Linked DNA regions of Homo sapiens. The protein of the gene in region 1 interacts with the protein of each later gene in a pairwise test. Each region holds a gene or a part of one and is shown on either strand. Other genes may lie near its edges.

The links.
Region 2: the proteins of RAB31 (region 1) and ALS2CL interact in binary tests that used the Homo sapiens proteins (3 or more experiments, as listed by UniProt).
Region 3: the proteins of RAB31 (region 1) and NEK7 interact in binary tests that used the Homo sapiens proteins (3 or more experiments, as listed by UniProt).

Annotation. Positions count from the first base shown.
Region 1 is NC_000018.10:9,703,846-9,711,307, forward strand, and holds the start of RAB31 (ras-related protein Rab-31), read left to right. Parts: upstream 1-4,455; 5' UTR 4,456-4,560; coding exon 4,561-4,599; intron 4,600-4,826; exon of another isoform or gene 4,827-6,148; intron 6,149-7,462. UniProt on the Homo sapiens protein: The small GTPases Rab are key regulators of intracellular membrane trafficking, from the formation of transport vesicles to their fusion with membranes.
Region 2 is NC_000003.12:46,676,632-46,683,738, reverse strand, and holds part of ALS2CL (ALS2 C-terminal-like protein), read left to right. Parts: intron 1-412; coding exon 413-609; intron 610-1,644; coding exon 1,645-1,710; intron 1,711-2,140; coding exon 2,141-2,239; intron 2,240-2,331; coding exon 2,332-2,493; intron 2,494-3,197; coding exon 3,198-3,309; intron 3,310-4,451; coding exon 4,452-4,529; intron 4,530-5,349; coding exon 5,350-5,480; intron 5,481-6,716; coding exon 6,717-6,890; intron 6,891-7,000; coding exon 7,001-7,097; intron 7,098-7,107. UniProt on the Homo sapiens protein: Acts as a guanine nucleotide exchange factor (GEF) for Rab5 GTPase. Regulates the ALS2-mediated endosome dynamics.
Region 3 is NC_000001.11:198,257,956-198,265,062, forward strand, and holds part of NEK7 (serine/threonine-protein kinase Nek7), read left to right. Parts: intron 1-4,619; coding exon 4,620-4,682; intron 4,683-6,169; coding exon 6,170-6,280; intron 6,281-7,107. UniProt on the Homo sapiens protein: Protein kinase which plays an important role in mitotic cell cycle progression. Required for microtubule nucleation activity of the centrosome, robust mitotic spindle formation and cytokinesis.

The DNA.
Region 1 (7,462 bases):
TCCCCCCATCACAAACACACACACTCACCTACCAGTTGACTAGGTTCAAACTCCAACCATCCTGATCATCTTCTCCTTTACTTGGGGGTTGATTTCAGTTGAATTCAAGGTTTGGCATCTCTGGAATTTATACCCATTTCTTGAATAAGAAGATCTACAAAAATGAAGCAACTACACCAAGCCTCAGACATTTCACATCATACAATAGTCTCCTGTTTATATGTTTGTCTCTTTCCTTTATAGCTCGACGTCAACGTGGGTCTTCTTCCGCCATTGGTCATTCTTCCAGTGTCTAGCACAGTCAGTGTCTGCTATTTGCCGAATGGGTGGGTAAACAGCTAAACATAGAAATCCCTGTGATATGAGAATCGTTGCCAACATCTAAAATTAAACCAATTTTTAGTTTGAGAGCAAATAATATCAAGGTACAAAAAAGTGAAACACAACTCCTTTTAAGAAAAAGAAATCCTAAACTCCGTGTATTACTCTGAGCAATTGCAGGAAAACTTCTGACTCGCCAGAAGAAATAACCCAAGACAGTCTATGAAACGAAACTGGGGTTGTGGTGACTTTGATCTGCATCATTGTAGTTTAATTTCTCAGTTTTACAAGTAAGCAATGAAAATGAACAGGACTGACTGAATTACATGTTACTTAGGGCTTTCGGGAGGTGGTCACAGCTGAATCAATCCGTTTACCTTCCATGGGAGGTGTTAATATATATCTTATTGCTTATTTTCTTTTAACCCAACACTTTAAGCTCAGCCAGAGATCCAAGGGACAGTGGAGGTTGCTAGGCAGGAGTGTCAGTAAAGAGGCCAGTTGGATGCTGAGGATGGCTTAAGCTGCCCAGTGCTGGCTCTCAGGAATCTGGAAAATTTAAACATTATCACCTGACACCAATCCTTTGTGAGATCCCAACAGAGCCTTCCCTGTCTTCAGTGAGAGCTGTCTACTTGTTCTGGAACACTTCTGAGCACTCCCATTTGAGGCGATGGAGACGATGAGGAGGCGAGCCCCCACCCTCCCCATCTCCCATCTAAGATGTCACCACACTTTCCACATGAAGACATCTGGAATTGCAAAGGAGGCTGTGCAGTTTCTATCCGCTTACCTAATAGCCCCTCCACCGAGCAGCCACCTTCCTTGGGGTTCTCAGGGACGCTCCCTTTCCCACAGACAGGCTCCTTCAGTTTCCAGCCTCCCCCCTCCAGCTATTGTCTCCTTTTTCAAGTCTGTGGGTGAATTGTGGGGTCCACTCACCTCTGTTTTTCTAAATCCCTCAAATCCCTTTCCTACCCTGGTATGTCCAGGATTCATCTCCTCAAAATTTGTTTAAAGGGCGTGGGTTACAAATAAGGTTAGGTAGCACATGCTATTTAGAAAGTTTCAGAAAGAGAAGGAAAGAAGGAAGGAAAGAAGGAAGGAAGGAGTTGTTACATAAATGAGAAATACTAAAAGGCTGTTTAACTGATATTGCAGACACTATAGTTCCATAAAAAAGATAAATTATGAAAAACAAGGTTTGTAAACATTTTTATCTTTCCTTAATTGGCCCTTGAGCAGACCAGATGACTCAGTACTGGTCTCCAGGGATCAGCCTGCACTCCAGGGCGTTGTGACACATTTATATTGCTTATCCTATTTAACATTTTGAGTCATATTATTTTCACAGAACCTTATTTACTATAAACGTCTCTATAAATCTACATAGTATACACATTTCATTTAATATCTAAGTAACATATACTATTGTACACCATCAAATATACCCAGTAACGACACCCTAGCTTGCTTAATCATTCCTCAAGTGTTAAGAGGTTTGAGTTACAATTAACGCAACAATCCTCCCTTTACCTCCATGGATGTAATTTTTTTGTTGTTGTTTCTCTAACCCATTTATTTGTTTTTTTTGTCTGCATATGTGTTTATATTCAAACAGGCAGCTTTGTTTACTTTTCGTCTTTGTATGTTATTGTTCAAAAAAGGATTTCCTGAATCAAAAAACATGATCAGTTTTATGACCATTACTGGCTTTTTCTGTTGGAGACTTTATAGCAGCAGAGAAGTTGAGGTCTGAATTAGCACAATGACCATTTACGTTACAAAATTCTTATAAGAAAAACTTGCATGTTCTATTTCTTAATTTGATAAATTGTCAGTTATGTACCATTGAATTTTTACCCCTGCTGAAGTTACACCAGAACTACATATTTGCAGAAAATTCCAGAGAAGTCAGGATGGGCCCTTAGTACAGTAATCATAGAGTGTAACAATAGAGAACATGGCACTTTTTTAAAAAGTCGAGAGCTGCCTCTGACGTGTCACTCTTAAAATATGTCTCCCAGCAGTCATCTTCCTGCCTTCCAGGGCTAGAGCTTTGTAGGTTACCTTAGGGTGATCATGGGGACCTGGTTTTCATGAGGCCATGTTTAAGCTCAGGGGTGACCTGGCTGGGAAGAGGGTATAAACCCATGAACACGAGTCAGTTGACAGACTAGGATTGCCACTTTGTAAAGAAGAGCCCAAGACCTGATCAGAATGAGACACAAATGAGGTCATTTTTAACAGAACTAGGGGAGGGGAGAAGGACAAATAGACTGGGGCGATTCTCAGGGAGGGAAGGGCTGGATACGAGACTCTTTTGGGAGAGCCTAGAAACGACGCAAGCGTCCCAGACACCCGGGCTAGTGGAGAAGAGAGCAGAATGAGAGCAGTCATGAAAAAGAGTAAGGGAACACAAGAGAAATTCGGTTTGCCTATTTCTGTCTGGGCACAGTTCTGCCCTTAGCAATCTAAGGCAACTTCACAAAGCTCCACTCACTGCACGGGATGTAGAACACAGTGGAGGCTTCCACCCTGGTTTGACTGGCTTTTGGGAATCAAGCTGGAAAGCCAAAAGGACATGTTTCACTGTGGAGGTGCCCTCAGGGCTGGCGAAGGCCTTGGGGGAGGTGTCTTTGCAACTGTGTAGGGGTGGTTTTCTGATTAGCAAATCTGAGGGCAGGGAGATATTGTGATCAGGACTGTTTGATTCTGGGGAAGCCTCTTTTTACCCTGCCCACATAGAAGACTCTGCTTTGGATACAGAGTCAAGGACGGATACTGATACAATGGACCTGTAACTTGTCCATGGCTGCCTTTTGTACAGTTTAGTCCATTTGAGTAATCTCTACAAGCCTGCACCTCGAGGGCAAACTTCCTGCTCTTCTGGGGAATTTAATTGTGAATTGTCTGTTTCGGGGCCCATTTTGACTCCTGTATTCCAGGACTTATCTCTTTGGAGGCCTTGATTTGGAATTTCCCATTGGATGGGGCTACTTGGGTACTGGGTAGCTTCAACCTGGCTTCCGTAAGAACAAAGCCAGATGATCACGGTGGGTGGTCTGCTAGGAGAATGGAAATGCCATTGATTAAAATTGGAAGGTTAAGAGAGAGGCCTGAGAGTTTGGGATAGGAGATGAAGTTTCAAAAAATCAGTTTTTAAAAAAACATTTCCCATCTGAAATGCCAGTGAATTGTTCAGATAGATTACATTGAAAAGGCTGACATTTCTGTAGCAGCAACGAATGAAGTCATCCGAGTGGATGAGGTGCTCTAGGCCATACATGGAGAAGAGAACACAGTTACCCAAGCCTCCCCGACTGTGTGCGGCCACAGACTCTGCTCATTTCCCAGTTAGGAACGATGCAGGGGTCTGCTGGGATCTCCACGTTTCTACCTGTACCTCTGAGGACTGGGTTTCTGCCCACACGAGTTGCAGGATTTGCTCTACTGAGAAAAAGACTTTTGCTCCAGAAAGCAAGTTTCCCGTTTCAGACACGGACAGCGAGTTTTGCTTCTAGAATCATTTTCAGCTGCATACAGAAAAATGAACTTGGCTGAGCTGAAGAGCCACACATATGTTAAACGGAAGCTCGGGTATTAGGAACGTCGAGAAAGGCAGGCCGAAAAGTTAGCCCCCTTCTCCTCACCCCTGTCCTCACAGCGGCCCCTTCAGTGGCCTGACTTTTTCTGCGTGGGACCCAGAATGTCGCTTGAGGATGGGACCCCCGCAGACCTCCACGCGCTGCCACGCAAACGGCCTCGGCCGAGAGCATTCGCTTTCCAGATGAGAATGGCATCTTCAGGGACCCGCTGGTAGTGGGGCCAGGTCTCCACAGGGCCGGTCCAGTCCTTCCTACCCACCCGGGCCCTGCGGCCAGGCGGGGCCGGGAGGGGCGGATGCCGGAGGGCGCTGGGGGAGGCCGACCCGCGCGGGGCTGGTCCGAGGGCGGAGGCAATCCGCCGGCGACGCCGCAGGTCCCGGGTGGCTGACGCCGTCCGGGGGCGTTCCTGGGAGCTGGGGGCCGGCGAGGCTGGACCCGACGCGCCCGGGAGGAGCCGGCCGGCGGCCACGTGACCCACCGCGGCGGGGCCGGCGGCCCAGAAATAGCAGCGGCGGCGGTTCCGCCCGCGGGCGGCGCGAGCGAGGGGCAGAGGCGAGAGACGCCGGCGGGGCGCGGGCGCGGCGGCCCCGGAGGATGCTGCTGAGCCCCGGCACTGCCTGGCTGCGAGCACATGATGGCGATACGGGAGCTCAAAGTGTGCCTTCTCGGGGTGAGTCCTGGCCGCCACCCGCCGGCGGACCCCGGCCCGCGCTCTCGCGCCCCTTCGCTCCCCTATTCCCTGCGCGCTCAGTCCCCGTGATCCCCTCGCTCTCCGCACCCCTCTCGTAGCCCCCGTCCCCCTCGTCCGCGCGCCCCCTGGTTCCCCGGGTCCCCCTGGCTCCCCTAGTCCGTGCGCCCCTCGCTCTCCGCGCCCCTCGCTCTCCGCACCCCGCCTGTTCTCCGCCTCCCCGCCGTCCGTGCGCCCCTCTGGTCCGCCCCCGCTCTCACCCTGCCGGGGTCCGGGTCCGAGCCTGCCCCGGGCTTACTCCGCTCTTTCCTCCCGGCCCGCGAGTCCCCGGATCCGCGGCGACCTCGCGGGGACCCCCAGCGGGGACGGGGCAGTGGCGGCGAGTCTGGGGCCCCGAGGGCTTTCTCCTCCGCTTTTGATAGTTTCCTTCCGGCAGAAAGTTTAAGTTGCTCAGCCAAGTCGCTGAGTGCTCTTTTGCCTCCTGGGGGCAATTGATTTACTCACGTAAAACAGAAAAATAAAACCAAAAGCGAACCCAGCCAAGGGGGTGAAAGCCGAGGGCGCGGCCGGGGTGGAAGGTGAGGCAGTGACCTGTGCGGAGCGCGCCCTGCAAACTTCCCTGCTGCGGGTGAAAGAAGCTGCCTGGGAAAGTCCTCCCCACCATCACTCCCCTAAAGTGGGGTTTTCTCCGCCCGAAGAAGCCTTAAAGCAGCCAGAAACAAAAAAGCAGTCAATCCGTGCGGCCCGGGGACTGCAGACAGGGGACCCGGCGAGGACGCAGGGAGCCGCTGGCGAACCGCCCCTGGGAATTCAGATAAACGTAGGGTCGCTTCCTTTCGGGGGCCCACTCCGCATTCCAGAATTCCTTCTTCTAAAAGAAGAGCCGGTTCTAAGGGCGTTTTCAGCAGCCATTAGCATCTGGTGTACCCGCCCGTGTCATTGGCAAAGCTGGTCTCATGAAAACCATTTCCTAAAAAAGGGCAGCGAAAGGGTCGCATTCTTGTGCGAACTGATCTGTCAAGATGGGGGTACAAGAACTGTAGAAAGAGGAAATGATTTCGGTGAGGACTGAATTGTGCCAGCGTCTCTAGGCTTCCTCTAGGCTCTTGTGGAACCTCCGGCAGGCTCCCATCATCGGCTCCCATCACCGGCCTCTTCCAAAACCATCCCTTACGCTAACTCGATTGTCCGGTTGGCTTAGAATTCCAGAGGATCTGGGAAGGCCCTGCCCTCCCTGCTAGCCCCTGGCACAGATCCGCACAGATCCCCACCTCCCCCGACTTGCTCAGCCACAGCCAGGATCTAGTCTGGTCTTTCTCTGTTGACCTTTTTGTGTGGCAGGAGTGGGTTTTCCTGTTCCCCAGGCCCTCTAATATTTCCAGACATAAATTCCAGGAATCCCATGCTTCCCTCTTGAGGGGCCATTTCAGCCTCAGGAAAGGCCTTCAGAGACTTAGAAGGAATGTCGTGTTCCAAGGAATGAAGAGGCAGCCTTGATGTGCCGTGTTTGTCAGGACTGGCCTTGGGAAAGGTGAAATAGGACATATTTTTGCCTTTTTTTCTGCAACTCTTTTCTCTTGACTTTTACTGAGGTGGTCCAAGCCCTGCCGTGTCACAGGACCCCTTATTTTCAGTTTCGGTGTTTAGGGACAGGTCTCTATGTCCTCCTACCAGGACACTGATCAGGTGGCAAGAACCCTGTGTCAAGAGGCAGGAAACCTAGGCTCTCGTTCTTTCCCACCAAAGAGCTGTGTCGTTTTAGCAAAGCAACTCAGTGGCCTCATCTATGAAATGGGCATAATAACATGTTCCCCCTTTAGGCAGAGGACTACACCAGATGATCTCTTAAGATACATGTTACCATTTCCTGCTAATCTATGAGTTCAGGGTGCCAATTAGCAAACCTGGGAGAGGAGGAAGCTGGAGGAAATCTCTTTACTTCTTTTATCTCCAAGAAAGATACACACTCTTTGAGTGGCTTCCTGCAGACAGTGCCTTACCTTTGCCAGTTCTGTGTGTAGGAATTTGAACTTGGAGTTGGAAGAACCATGCCAAAGCAGAGAAAGAAGAGGTTTCTGGGCAGACGGAGGCTTTGAAACATCAATCGTGGCCGGTCGCGTTGGCTCACACCTGTCATCCCAGCACTTTGGGAGGCTGAGGCGGGGGGATCATTTGAGGTCAGGAGTTCAAGACCAGCCTGGCCAACATGGTCAAACCCCGTCTCTATTAAAAATACAAAAAAAAGTTAGCTGGGCGGTAGCGGCGCATGCTTGTAATCCCAGCTACTCGGGAGGCTGAGGCAGGAGAATCGCTTGAGCCTGGGAGGTGGAGGTTGCAGTGAGCCGAAATCACGCCACTGCACTCCAGTCCGGGCGACAGAGTGAGACTCTATCTCAAAGAAAAGAAAACAAAAGAAAAGAAACATCAGTCATATCACACCACATTTGTGGCTTCCTTTTTTTTTTTTTGAGGGTGGCTGTAAGTTTCAGTTTTATTGAAATCAGAGGACATTTTATTTGAAAGACCAAATGACCTTGTTGTCCACACTGAGTAAGATTTGCCACATCCCCTCGTTTGGCTGGCTCTTTCCTGGGTGAGATGTGTGCAGCAGGCTGTGTTTCTAGCTGCTCATCCAATTAGGCTGATTCTCTGGGTGGGATAACATTGAGGGAGATCAAAACCATTTGACTGTCTTCGGTTTACTCTCTTCTCTCTCTCTCTCTCTCCTCTTTTTTGTTTTGAGACAAGGTCACATTCTGTCATCCAGGCTGGAGTGCAGTGGTGCCATCATAGCTCACTGCACCCTCCAACTCCTGGGCTCAGTGGATCCTTCTGCATCAGCCTA
Region 2 (7,107 bases), on another chromosome or scaffold:
ACAGGGTAGGAAGAGGGCAGAAGTATGCAACCCTGCAGGGCCCCACAGGAGTGCCGGCGAGTGTCTGGCAGGCTTCTGGGGACCTGGTCAGAGTAAATCGGGGTCAAGAATTAGAATGTCAAAAAGAACAGGGTATTTTTCTTTCTAAAGACAGAATTGGGTCCTGTGTTGATCCCTGCCCTGAGGTCTTGTTTGGCCCCTCTGGGCAGGCCCTGAAACTGCAGAGGAGGATCTCAGGTTGGGTGGAGGGCCCAGAGAGTAGCAAGAAGCAGTTGAAGGGTCCCCAAGGTGACAAAATGGAGTAGGAGGTGGAGGGTGGAGGGGGTGGTACCTGGAGCTACCCCAGAAGGCTTCCTGGAGGGAAAGCCTCCAGCAGCAGTGATCCCCTTCCCCATGTTCCCCCTCCCACCAGGCAGTCTGGCAGTGGAAGGTGACCTGGGCTGTTCACCAGGCCCTGCATGGGAAGAAGGACTTCCCCGTGCTGGGGGCTGGCCTGGAGCCCTCCCAGCCTCCCGACTGCCGCTGCGCAGAATATACCTTCCAGGCAGAGGGCCGGCTCTGCCAGGCCACCTACGAGGGCGAGTGGTGCAGGGGCCGGCCCCACGGCAAGTGAGTGGCTGGAGCTCTGGGTGGCAAGGTGGGACTCCCTGGGGGTCTGCGGGGCAGAGAGCAGCACACAAGCCTAATTGTCTCAGGACATGTTCCAGGAGCGGTTACTCTCTGTGGACAGTCAATTCTCAGAGTCCCTCTTAAGTCCTCTTGGACTGGGCCTGGCCCAGAGACAGTCTGTGCCAAATAAAGTCTTGATGGTGACGCTAGAGGACAAGGGGCAGCAACCACGCGCTGGCCTTACAGCCTGCAGGTGCCATTCCATTCTTAGGAGGGTGGGAGAATAATTCTCACATCTGTACCTCATTGTCTGGCAGTGTTGAAATGGCTTGCACACATTCTATCTCCATCGGTCCTCATGAAGACGCTCTGTATGGAGTGCTTTTACCCATTTCATAGGTACAAACACTGAGGCCTAGTGATGGGCATAACCTGCCCAAGGTCTCAGGGCAAGTGATAGGGTGAGCCGGCCTCAATCACAGGTCTGTGTGACCCCACAGACAGGCAAGCCTTTATAGACCATGTGGCCCCACCCCATGCCACAGCTGGGAAAACAGACCCAGAGAGCAGAAGGGACTCACAAGGCTACACTCTCAAGCACCTCCGCTAGTTTCTGATACCCTGCCTCCTTTCAGAAAGGGCTCGAGAAGACTTATGAACAAAAGGACAGAAAAAACACAGAAGTGGGGAGGAGGGTGGTAGAAACCCCACAGACCAGCATTAAACTTGAGCTTGATTCTTAGCTCTGAGCTTCCTGTTGGTCAAGGGAAAAAAGGGAACCTAGATGTCTCCAGGGCTTTCCTTATGGGATGTGGTGAGTGTGCCCCATGAGGCTGCTGGTACAGTTGGGCCAGGAGTAGAAAAGGGCTAAAGGGGCTTTCTGCAAGGAATGTTCGGAGCTCAGACAAGAGGGCTGGGTGGGTGCAGGGAGCCCAGTCCAAGGGAAGAGGAAGGGAGGGCGTCTGAGAAAGTAGGTGGCTGAGGTTGCTGAGGGGTGGGTAGGCCTGAGGCTCGTGAACCTCCACTGTGTTCCAGGGGAACCCTGAAATGGCCGGATGGGCGGAATCACGTGGGGAATTTCTGCCAGGGCCTGGAGCATGGGTAAGGCTGGCTGGGGCTACTGCTGGGAGGCGTGCAGTGGGCTGAAGGGTGCTTTCCTCCCCTGCTGTGGTCACCAGCCCGGCCCCATCCTGAATTCCCAAACCTCAAGCAGGAACTTAGAGACAATCCGGTCCAGCCCCCGCCCACTGTACCAAAGGGGAACCGGGGGCCTGAATAGGGGGCCCGTCTCAGCTCGAGGTCACAGAGGGAGTGGTACAGGCCAAAAGGTGCTCCAAGGTGCTCGGGACCAGGCTGGAGGGAGGGGTCCTGAGAGGGGCCCTTTGAAGGATAGGAAGGCTGAGGGCCTCTGAGAGTCTCCCTGTTGTCTGGAAGGCTCCTTGGGGGCAGGGATACTCCTGGGTGGCATGGAGTAGGTGTAATGGGCGTCTCAGGTCAGGGCTGATCCCCACCCCCACAACCATGCTGTCAGCTTCGGCATCCGCCTGCTGCCCCAGGCCTCTGAGGACAAGTTCGACTGTTACAAGTGTCACTGGCGAGAAGGCAGCATGTGTGGCTACGGCATCTGTGAGTAAGTGACCCTGGCTGGGGGGTTCATGGGCTGGGCCCATCCTCTGGGCTGAGCTCCATGAGGCAGAGCTCGTTGTTGATGGCCCTCCCCAGGTACAGCACCGACGAGGTGTACAAGGGCTACTTCCAGGAGGGCCTGCGGCACGGATTTGGGGTCCTTGAGAGTGGTCCGCAGGCCCCCCAGCCCTTCAGGTACACGGGCCACTGGGAGAGGGGCCAGAGGAGCGGCTATGGCATTGAGGAGGATGGTGACAGGTGAGCGCCCTGCAGCCACCACTCCCAGGACGGAGGGGTGGACCGGGCCCTCACAGACCAGATTGTTGCAGGACACAGGCTCCTGTTTGTCCCCCACTGTGTCTCTCTTAAGCCCCTCACTTCCCCTCCAGTCCCTCGGTTGCTGCGGAGGCTCAGGCTGAGCGAATCTTGGTCACGCTGACTGCAGGGTCGCCCCCGCCCCTCACCCCTCCTCATGGTGTTGGAGAGGCATTTCTGACCCCCTGCTCTGTCACGTCTAAAAACTGCAGCCCTTGCTGGCTCTCTGGGCTGTGTGATAAAGCCCTGGATCCTTGGCCTGGCAATCACAGCCTCGCCTGCTTCTCTGACCTCACCCCAGCTGCGTCTCCTGGGCACCCCTCCAGCCTTTCTGGACCACTGAAGTCCCCACGTATCCATCACATGCTCCTACCTCCATGGCTTTGCACACACTCCTATTCCCCCTGTCCTTCCTGCCACCTCCACGGAGAAGCCTCCCAGATGCCCTTCCCAGGCTGCCTCCCTCCCTCCTCCATTCTCTATTCCTCTTGGGGGTCCTGACCTCTCTGGCACTGTGTCTGTTGAGTGGATTCAGGTGATGTCACTGCCCCTTATCTGCACTCCCTGCCGCCCCGTGCCAGCAGAGTGCCCAGGAGGTACATGGGAATGAGTCTGATCCAACTCTGGCCACATTCCTCTCCTTCCAGAGGTGAGCGCTACATTGGCATGTGGCAGGCTGGTCAGCGCCACGGCCCAGGGGTCATGGTCACCCAGGCAGGTGTCTGCTACCAGGGCACCTTCCAGGCGGACAAGACGGTGGTGAGTGGAGTGTATCCTGGGCTATCCCTCTCTTTGCACCCCACTCCCGCTGGGGGCACTGAGGCTGAGCTGAGGCCTTTCAGGGAGGGATGGGAAAGGGGGCTGTGTTCCTGGGTGCTGGAGGGAGCCAGAACCTGGGCAGGAAGCCAGCTCTACCACCCACCTCCCCTGGCCCTGGCCAATCCCTGCTCTGCCTGACCTTGGTTTCCCCATCAGCAACTCAGGTTAAGAATACTTACCATAGACTCAATGAACTAACAAGAATGGAGCACTTGCTCATGATGATGCATTAGCTGACATTCACAGAGTCCTAACTTGACACCTGGCTCTGGGCTAAGCTCCCACCCTGATCTTGTGGGATCTTCCCAAGAGCCCTGCAGGTTGATGTCATTATTATCCCTAGTGTGTCCCTAGTGAATGACAAATGAGAGGTTCAGAGGGATCAGAGGACCTGCTCCATGTCACCTTCACTGAGTGGCAGAGCTGACACTCACACCCTGGTCTGCTGAGCCTGGCCGCCGAGCCTGGGACTCCCATGTTTGCCTCACCCATACCCTTCCAGGTGCCTGGGGAATGTGGGGCTCTGGCCTGATGGCTGTTCCTGTTATTATGGTCTGTTGGTTTGTTTATGCTCTACTTCATTCTCGAAAGGATTGAAGGAGGCCTTCAAGGAAAGAGGAAGACAAGGGGAAGAATAAGTACACAAAATAGATTTGGAAATAAGCCGAACACTAATTGTAACCCTTTCGGCTCTGAGCTTCCCGGCAGCCCATGGGGCAAGGGAGCCTGGTCAGCTCTGCCGTTCCCAGGGCCAGTGACAAGCAGGGAAGCAGGGATGTTTCAGAGAAAGCCCCACATTTCTTGAGCTCCCAAGGGCTTCCTGAAGAAGCCGCTGGGGTGAGGAGCCAGGGCGGAGGGTGTCATTTGGGGAAATCCAGGGATGGGGTCCTCGGGGCTGGTGCTTAGCAGGCCAAAGGCTAGAGTCCCAATTAGGTACAGTCCTGTGGGGCGTGATGAGGCTCAGGGCCCCTCTCGCCATGTGTCAGGGCACATCTCCCTTCTTTGGCCATCTCTCTCCACCCTGAGTTTCCTGGCCCTTCCTCACCCACCCTTTCTACCCTCCCTGGCTTCCTCTCCCCAAGGGCCCGGGCATCCTCCTCTCTGAAGACGACTCCCTGTATGAGGGCACCTTCACCAGGGACCTGACCCTCATGGGGAAGGTGAGGACCACTGAGGCCCCCCTCCACACCCTGCCAAGGCCTTGGTTGGTGTCTGTAATCTCCCCACTTAGACTCAGGGCTGGGGGCAGGTAGGGGAGGGCCTGTCCCACCTCCCTTGGAGCCAAGGAGTGGGCACAGCAACTCCACCCTGCCACAGAGTTGCGATTGATTCTGGAGTGAGGTGAGAGGGGACCAGTGGCCTTGCCTGCTATCCAGAGGGTACCGGTGGTCTCCTGGCTGTGTCCCTCCATACCCTCCTAGTTCAGAATACACGCCCTCCACCAGTACCAGTGCCTCGAGCAGCTGTCCCTGGAGGCACTGGCCTTCAGTGTGTGCCTCCCTGAGCTAACCCAGGAAAAGGCAATGTGTCCCCGCTGGAGCCTTTGGAAATGTAGGGGCTGTTTTGGTTTCATAATGACTGGAGCAAAGGGGTGGAGATCAGGTTGCTATGAATGGGACAGCCTCATGTGGCAAGACACCGCCCTCCTCAGGCGTTGCCTGTCCCTGGGCTTACCCCCACCCCAGCCCCTCAGTGGTGGTCTCCCCACTCTTGCCTGTGAGTCCCTTCTGCATCTCTCTCCTCTTCCTACCTCAGAGGTGAGCGAGCCCCTGAGACGTGGGCACAGCTGTTGGTGGGGGGCTCTGGCAGGCATAGAGGATTATGAACCCCTCAGCATGGAGCAGCTTGAATGGATGGCGGGAAGCCCATTCATTAGTCCTTAGCCTCTCTGACACTGATGGACAGGCTTGTGGCCTGTCATGATTGGCTGGAAGGGTAACTGGGCAGACAGACATCCCTGCTCCTTCTCCTGGCTCCCAGGGCAAGGTCACCTTCCCCAATGGCTTCACCCTGGAGGGCTCGTTCGGCAGTGGGGCAGGGAGAGGACTGCACACACAGGGTGTGCTGGACACGGCTGCCCTCCCACCAGACCCGAGCAGTACCTGCAAGAGGTGAGTGCCTGGCCCCTCTGGCTCTGGGCCTATCTGGGGATGTGTCTGTGTTTCCATCCCAAAGACTCAGGTCTCCTCAGAGGGGCCTTTTTGCACCCACCTCTTAGCCCTCTAGAGAGTTCCGAGAGCCCAGGGTGTACAACTCCAGTCAGAGACTCTTGGGATCAGGGGCTGTGTGGATATAATGCGGTACACCACAAAACTGGAGAGAAATATTATTTGTAGGCTTTGCTTAGGTCCTGCTTTTTTTTTTTTTTTGTCTCGAAAGGATACAATACGGTTTACAAACCAAACATACAGGAAAAAAAAAATAGAAAATAAGAGCATATGTTAACCTTAAAAGAAAGGGATATGTAGACATGTCCTACGGCATTTACAACTGATCATTGAGCCTGGCTCTGAGTTTCCTGGCAGCCAAGGTAAAGAAGGAAACTTGCTAAGTGGAATCACAGTCATTATCAAGGAGTATTCCAGAGAAGGATAGACTTCTTTTCCTGTAGGAACAGAGTTCCTCCTTGGAAAACAGTTGCTCTTGTTGCGTCTGTTGAGGAAGACTCAGTATTGCACAGAGGAAGGAATCTGTGTGGGTGGCAGTTCTAATGGGAAGTGGTCCCAGGCAGCATTTCAGATGTAGGGAGGGAGTACAGTTGACTACTTGGCCCGCTGTCCCTGCATGCTGCTTCTCCCTGACAGCAGGAGCTGGGAGTGGACAGCAATCCCTAGGGGCAGGCCCCAGCCTGGGTGTGAGTGTGGGCTGCGTGTAGCCTACGAGCATGACACTGGAGTGCAGGGCTCCATTAGACATGCGCAGCCAGGCCCCAGCCTGTTGGCCAGGGCGGGATCAACCACAGGAAGGAACCAGCTGTAAGGGAGGGCAGAGGGGGATGTCTTGGAGGGGAATCCCAGACTTTGGACACTGGTCTCTCTTGGACCAAGACCCCCTCTCTGGCTTGGCCTCCAGATCTGCCCACCTTTCTGTCTCCGTCTTTCCAGGATTCCATATGCTTCTGTCTGTCTTCTCGTCGCAGGGTAGATTCTCTGTCCCTTTCTCTGCTGCTCTTCCTCCTGGAGCCGTGGAGGTCAGCCCCCTCTGCATGGTTCAATCCATCCACCCTTCTTGGGGCTTGATCCTGGGCCAGGCTCATACCCCCACCCCTCCAAGGGCCTGGGCAGAGTCCTGCCTACCTCAGCTCCATCTCTCTCTGCCCCATCACCCACCCTCCATCCCCATCGCAGGCAGCTGGGCGTGGGTGCCTTCCCCGTGGAAAGCCGCTGGCAGGGAGTCTACAGCCCCTTCCGGGACTTTGTGTGTGCTGGCTGCCCCAGGGACCTGCAGGAGGCCCTGCTGGGCTTCGACGTGCAGAGCTCCAGGGAGCTGCGTAGGTCTCAGGATTACCTGTCCTGCGAGAGGTGAGGCCGGCTGTGTGAGCATGCACAGGTTAGGGTGGGCTGGGGAGGGCTTCCTGGGGGGAGGGGGCTGGGCCGAGGTGTGGGTGAGGGATGCTGTGTGTGGTGCCCAGGACCCACCCTGAGGACAGTGTGGGCAGTATGGAAGACATCCTGGAGGAGCTGCTGCAGCACCGGGAGCCCAAGGCCCTGCAGCTGTACCTCAGGAAGGTGAGAGCCC
Region 3 (7,107 bases), on another chromosome or scaffold:
ATAATTATAGCAAAAAATAAATCAAATAATTATAGCCAAAAAGGAAATGACCATGCTGTGGTATTAGAGACAAACTAGAGGAGGAGAGCATTTTAGATAGAGTGTGCAGCAAAGGCCTCTCCGAGGATGTGAAATTTAAGCGTAGGTGGAGGATAAGGAGTCAGTCATCTGAAGGGTAGTGACAGGAAGGTTCCAGCTGTAGAGCCGGGCACGGTGACTCAACGCCTGTAATCCCAGCATTTTGGGAGGCTGAGGCGGGCAGATGACGAAGTCAAGAGATCAAGACCATCCTGGCCAACATGGTGAAACCCTGTCTCTACTAAAAATACAAAAATTAGCTGGGTGTGGTGGCACACGCCTGTAGTCCCAGCTACCTGGGAGGCTGAGGCAGGAGAATCGCTTGAACCCGGGAGGTGGAGGTTACAGTGAGCCAAGATCACGCCACTGCACTCCAGCCTGGAGACAAAGCAAGACTCTCTCAAAAAAGAAAAACAACAACAACAAAAACTTGCTTAGTATATATTTTTAAGTACTTTGTTTTCTGCATTTTAAATGGTCTTTCTTCTAACAATTTGACATATGCCTTTTTAAGGGGATATTTCTGTTAAGTTACTAGAAGGATTTCATTTCCTTTTAAAGAAATCTAGTGTTAACCTTTTCAGTTTCATTAGCTATGAGTAATTTTGGCAAAATTTTAAGATGACAAAAGAAAACCTTTAAAATGATTCAGAGAATACCAAGAATTTATCAGTCATTACTTGCCTAACCACAGCTCATCCCTTGCTCTTACCAAGTATAAAATGAGTTTAAAAACCTGAAGAAACTTTGGTGGAGCTGAATGAAAATGATGCCTCCTAAAGACTTGTTTGTACATATTATATGCAAGATATTCTTACAAAGTCCATATTTTCACCCAAGACATACTGCTTTTTCTTGCTCATGAAATCATCGGACAGCTTTGAATCTGTGTTTGGGAATGATGTAATCTAAATATTCATTATTATTTATTTTTGTCTTGACTTGTTGGCTGAGAGAAAAAGAAAGATAAGATACTTCTGAATTTCCAGTTAAATGTATTTGTAAATGTATTTTGCTCAGAATTTAGTTTTGCTTTAGATGTGCCATCAATGCTTATTTCTCCCTGTGTTTGAGGAGTGACTTTTGATATTATTGAAAATTCAGTTAAAAATAAAAGTCAATTTGTAATTCTAAATTAATTTTTATAACTTGAATTAAAGATTTTCTATGTAGCATGTTTCTATCTTGATATGTTGTATCTTGTTATGGTTTCCTAAAACTCTTATACATCTATTATTCATTCTTATCTCACTCACCCTCTTTTGTTTTTAAAAATGTTGTTCCACATCATAGAGACATTGATTACTGAGAGATTAAATACATATATGTCTCCAAGTTTGTGATTTTCTTCATTTTAATTACTGGTACTATATGGGCATTATTCTTTCTCTGCCTCCTAAAACAAACAAACAAAAATACCAGGAATTACATCAAGATCTGATATACTTACAATTTTGTGCTTTCCAGTATATCTTTGATTTATCTCAAATTCCTTGTAAATAGCATTTCCTGAGAATGGCATCAGCATTTATGATGTGTCAAGAATCAGTTATTTCTCATGCCATTTTGATTTAAAGTGCAAGTAGTCTGTGTGTGTGTGTTTCATACCTATAACTAATATCAAGTTCAAATTTTTCTGTTTCCATTAGTGTTTGTTTTATTGTTTAACATGTTGATATAATAATCCCTTTGGGGGAATGAATGGCATTTCTATGTGAAATTGCTAAATGTAAAGCTTATTCCTTCAGTTCAAGAACTTTCGATTTTACACACACACTCACACACACACACACATATATATTTTCCTGAAGGGCATTACGCATTCCTGCTTATATAAATCAGTTATTGAGAGCCCTTCCAGCCAGCCATGCTCACCCCCATTAAGGTTCTTACATCACTTTGAACAAGTAGCACTTACAAGTTGCGTGTTAATTTTCTGTGTTGCAGTCTGCATTCTGCATCTGACACTGTGCATCTTAAAGGACTGCAAGATGGTTTTCTTATTTGTATCTGTAATAAAATCTGATAGTAAGATGGCATTCAGCATGGATTTTTATATGTAGAAAGGGTGGGCATTAACAGTTTAAGCTTGTCTGTACTCAGGATCAGGTTATTCATATTAATAATTTGTGTGTAGAGTTAAAACTATGATGCTCTTGGAGAAAATTTCTGCAAGGTTTTTCCTTCCTTCCATAAATAGTGTCATATGGTTTGTTCTTTAATACTGGTAATTTTTTTAACCCCTGCTATTGGTGTCCATTTATATCTAGCTCATTTTGTCAAAGCTTAATGTATACAACAGCTTAATGTTAGCTAAAACATATCTTACTAGATAGTTTATGTGAACTTTGTGATAGTGATTTGCCACTCATAGTCCTTTCCTTTTTTTTTTTTAACCCCTTTTCCTTTCCTTGCTGTTGTTTCATCGTGTTGCATTCTGTTCCATTCTGAAATCATGGTAGTTAACATGAGTTTACTGTGGCTGACATGGTTAGAATTACTGCTAATGGAAAAAAGAGAAGTTAACTCTCTTTAATATATGTACCGGCATACATATTTCTTCTTCTGTTATTTGATTAAGTGGGAGAAACTTTGATGTAATCTAGTCTGTCTCTTTTTGTAAACCATCAAGTAAGGTAAGGCTTTATATTTTTTCAAATCTTAAACTGCAGTGCTCAATATTTTACATTAAAAGTTGCAGAACGTAAATTTGATACTTGAAGTTTTCATTAGAAGTAGTAGAACCAAAATAATGTTAGTGAAAAAGCATATATATCATTTTATATACTGCTATTTTCACTATGCAAAAAGCACATGCGTTTGTACAAGAAATAGAAGGGACTGAGCCAAAGCTAAAATTCTTTAAGGCAGTGAGTTTATGGATTTTATTTTTGCTTTATAATCTTATCTAATATCTTCATATGGTTTTTTAAATTAAGACAAATTAGAACTTTGTGTATCTTTGGATATTAAGAATGATATCTAGAAAAAGTTGCCTCTTATAAGCTGTAATTTTACACCCTTATTCCATATTTACTTTTATGCAGTAGATATCTTTTGTTTCTGACTGGCAGAATCCTATAATTCTTTCAAGGTTCACCTCTAATGGTACCCGCCACCCTACATGGAAGGAATTTCTTCCTTAGGTTTCTAATACTACACTTTGTACACACATATATTTTAATACTTATTAGCTAGTTGTGTATGCATTAGACTTTGTGACAGCCTGGCTCATTGAGAAAACACTGACTATGGAGCTAGAACAACCTGGCTTCAAGTCCTGATTCTGTCCTTTACTAGTTTTATGATCATAAGCATATTATTTAATCTTTTTGAGCCTCAATCCTCATCTTGTTATTGTGGCCAATACTACCTGTCTTATAAGATTGCAATGAAGTTTAAAGCATCATGTGTAAAGAGGCCAGCCCTCTCTGGTAGTGTCTAATAACTACTTCTTTAATTAAAAAGACTTGGATTCTGCCACTCCTTTGACATTGTACCTTCTTTTCCTGGAATGTTAGCTGGCTGAATCAGGAAGACTTGATCAAGCTGATTACTAAAAATGTCATTAATTTTTTTATTTGTTATGTAACTAGGGTTTTAATCAGCTTGCAGTACTGACTTAGATTTTTTTTGCAGTCTCTAAGATATTGCTTTTTTAAATGTTATTTTCCACACACTTAGAACCTTGAGAGATTTGTGTTTTCAGAGACACATGAAATATCTTTTTGATTGTATTTTTTATTTTTATGTTTTTAACAGTAGGTTAATATTTTTCAACCTTTTCTTCATTATCCTCCCCCCAAGCTGCCTGTTTAGACATTTCTTCCTAATTACCTCTACCCATGAAATTTTAATTCCACAAATACAGTATATCTGTTTATGTGTAGTACTGTATGTGTATCTATACTTTATACTTAATAGAGTAAAATTTTGTTACCCTTCTCCACAAAGAACCAATTTTCACCCCCTTGGAATGATATCACCCTTGTCAAGAATGCATGCATCAGACCTTTTAGACATGATTTGATGGAACAGATTAATGGTTCAGTGCTTGGGTTCTAGATGGATAACTCTGAGAATGAATTCTGCTTGCTCTGTTGATTAGCTGTGTGACCTTTTGTCATTCTCCTTAGCTTTCTAAAGCTTCTCTTCTTCATCTGTAAAATGGGAATACTACTATTATCATCCTCATAAGGTTGTGCAGTACATTTAGCATATATTAATTGCTCAACATATATTAGCTATTACTTTATCATCTTAATAATCACAACTTTAATTTTGTTCATTGGAACTTAAGACCTGAGTGTTAAGGGGTATCTACCTGTTCTCTTTATCCATTTTTTAAATACTGACTGCTGAAAATGTAAGCAATGTTGGTAACATAAGATACCTACAGAACTCCTTAATAAAGAAAAGCTAATCAGAAAGAAAATTCCTTAGTGTACAAATAATTACATGTAGAGTATTAAAATGAATTTACACAATAGCTTGAACCATAGGTTATTATTTTATTAAGTAATTCTGGGTTCTGTTTTTAGATATTTGATTTAATGGATGCCAAAGCACGTGCTGATTGCATCAAAGAAATAGATCTTCTTAAGGTAATTAATGAACTGTTGACTCTTTTGAACATAACATGGTGATAAAAGTGATTTACTAAAATATCACACTTAAACACAAAAAGGTTTTTAAGACTTATGCTACACTGATTTCAAGTAATATTATATAAGGTTAAATTTCAGTATACTGAAGAATGTAGTTATTTTTTGGATTTATTGTTAAATAACATAATCAGAACATTTGTAGGACCAGCTTTTTTTTCTCATTTCAAAGTAGGAAATAGATAAAATGGGCATAAAACATTGAAGAATTTTTTTTTCTTGACCACCCCAACAAGACATATTCTAAAGGTTAAGTAATATAAATGCAAATTAGCATTATCTCAACATGTATTATATTGAGAATGTGGACTAATCAAAATGGTTCACATGCATTTTCTAATGTTTCAATACTTTTTCCAGACTTAGACAGAGTGCATGTAAAGAGTATGCCAGGAATTAGCTTTTTAGTTTCTCATCTACTAAGAATATGACTGAGATTTCAGTTATTTCTGCACTGCTTCTTTTATAGTGAAGTTTCTTTTGAGAAATACTGCGGCCTATGTTGTATTTTTAACTTTTAGTTAAGACTTCGCTCTTTTTTTATGCCATCCGTTTGTGTTAGTGCCTAAAATGAACCAGATTTATGCAAAAAGGAAGAAAGTAAGGTCAAAACAATGTTTTCTGACTATTCTGTTAGTTGTAGTTATTTCTTGGCACATGAAGTAGCTGGCTTAAATATATGTAAACTTTTACTGTGGAAATAGCATGTCATCATAGAAAATTTGCAGCGAAAACTTTAAGTAGAAAGAAGAAAGTCACCCATACTTTCTGCATAATTTCTCAGAGAAACAATTCATCTTGTATTAATATGTTTAAAGATTGAACAAAAGGATTGCAAATGAGTAGGGACTGATACGTATATTTCTACAAGGTAAAATTTTTCTTAGGGATGATTTTATGAATTGGCTCACATGAATAAGTCCTGTATGTTATTTGATATAAAAGCAATAGTTAGATATAGTATAGTAGGTACCAGCTGTGTTTTGTCTACTAGCTGGAGTTATTCTAGGACCAACCATAACTTCCAAGTAGGAGTAAAAAGGGATACTTTATTTATCATTGAGTGTTCCTAAATGAAAGTTCTCATTTTGAGGATGTAATTTTTAGCAGTTGGCGACCTAATTCTATCATTTACTTCTTGCATCTGTTGATATGCTTATTGGGCATAGCAGTACTTTTAAATTAAGATTTAAACGTAAAATATATTCTTTCTAATAAAGAATATTAAGATAAATTAATTTATACCTAGTTTTACTTTTAATAATTGTAATATTTGTTTCACAATTCACTAAAGAAAAGTATACTGTCATGTTAAGATTTCTGTAATTTAAAAAATACGGTGAAGTTTGTTCTTAAGTACAAAACTATAAGTGACTCTTGGATATTTACAGTAAGAAAACTTTCTGATGCCTGTTTTATTTTCTCAGCAACTCAACCATCCAAATGTAATAAAATATTATGCATCATTCATTGAAGATAATGAACTAAACATAGTTTTGGAACTAGCAGATGCTGGCGACCTATCCAGAATGATCAAGGTAAGTTTTGAAAAAATTGTCTTAATGTTTTGTTTTGTTTTTTTTTCTAATAGAATTGTCTGTTAAACACATAGGGATATTAGATATTTTAAACTAAAGACCTCAATGCAAAGCTTATCTGATAGATATGTAACAAATAGTAGATGGTTAGTGATCATAATTCTGAAACTGGTTTACTTGGTGATGTTTACACTGATCAGCTTAAATATCTAAACACCCCAAAACCAACTTGGAAAGAGGCCAAGATACTTGTCTTCTGTAAGTTGAGTTAAAGTTTTGCTGTTTGATTCTCTGAGCAGACCATGCTTGATCCTGTGTCTCTGGACATGAGTAAAAGGAGGTAGAAAGAGACTCTAGAGCAGCTTGACCTGTTTCTTGGGGGGGAATCCATCAAAGAAAGTGGGATTTGCAGTCAGACCTTGGATATCAACCCCACATAAAAGTTGTTTAACCTTCTTTTCTAAGGGCATATTAATTCATAATTAATATAATTAAGTTGTTTAACCTTCTTTTCTAAGGGCATATTAATTGGGTTTAAGTTCAGCTGCAATTAATAGAAACCCTTAAATAATAGTAGCTTAAAAACTGTTTGTCCTTGGGCCAGTTACTTCTCTGTGTCACATTTTCTAAAAAACACAGTAATAATAGAACCTACTTTATAGGATTGTTGTAATGATTGAATTAATTAGTATTTATTAAGAGCTTAGAAGAATGCCTCACACATTGTAAGGCTATGTAAATGTATCTGCTGCTGCTATTATTATTGTTATTGTTATTATTTCTCTGTCACATAAAAGTCTGGGGCTAGTATGGTAGCTCTGCTCTAT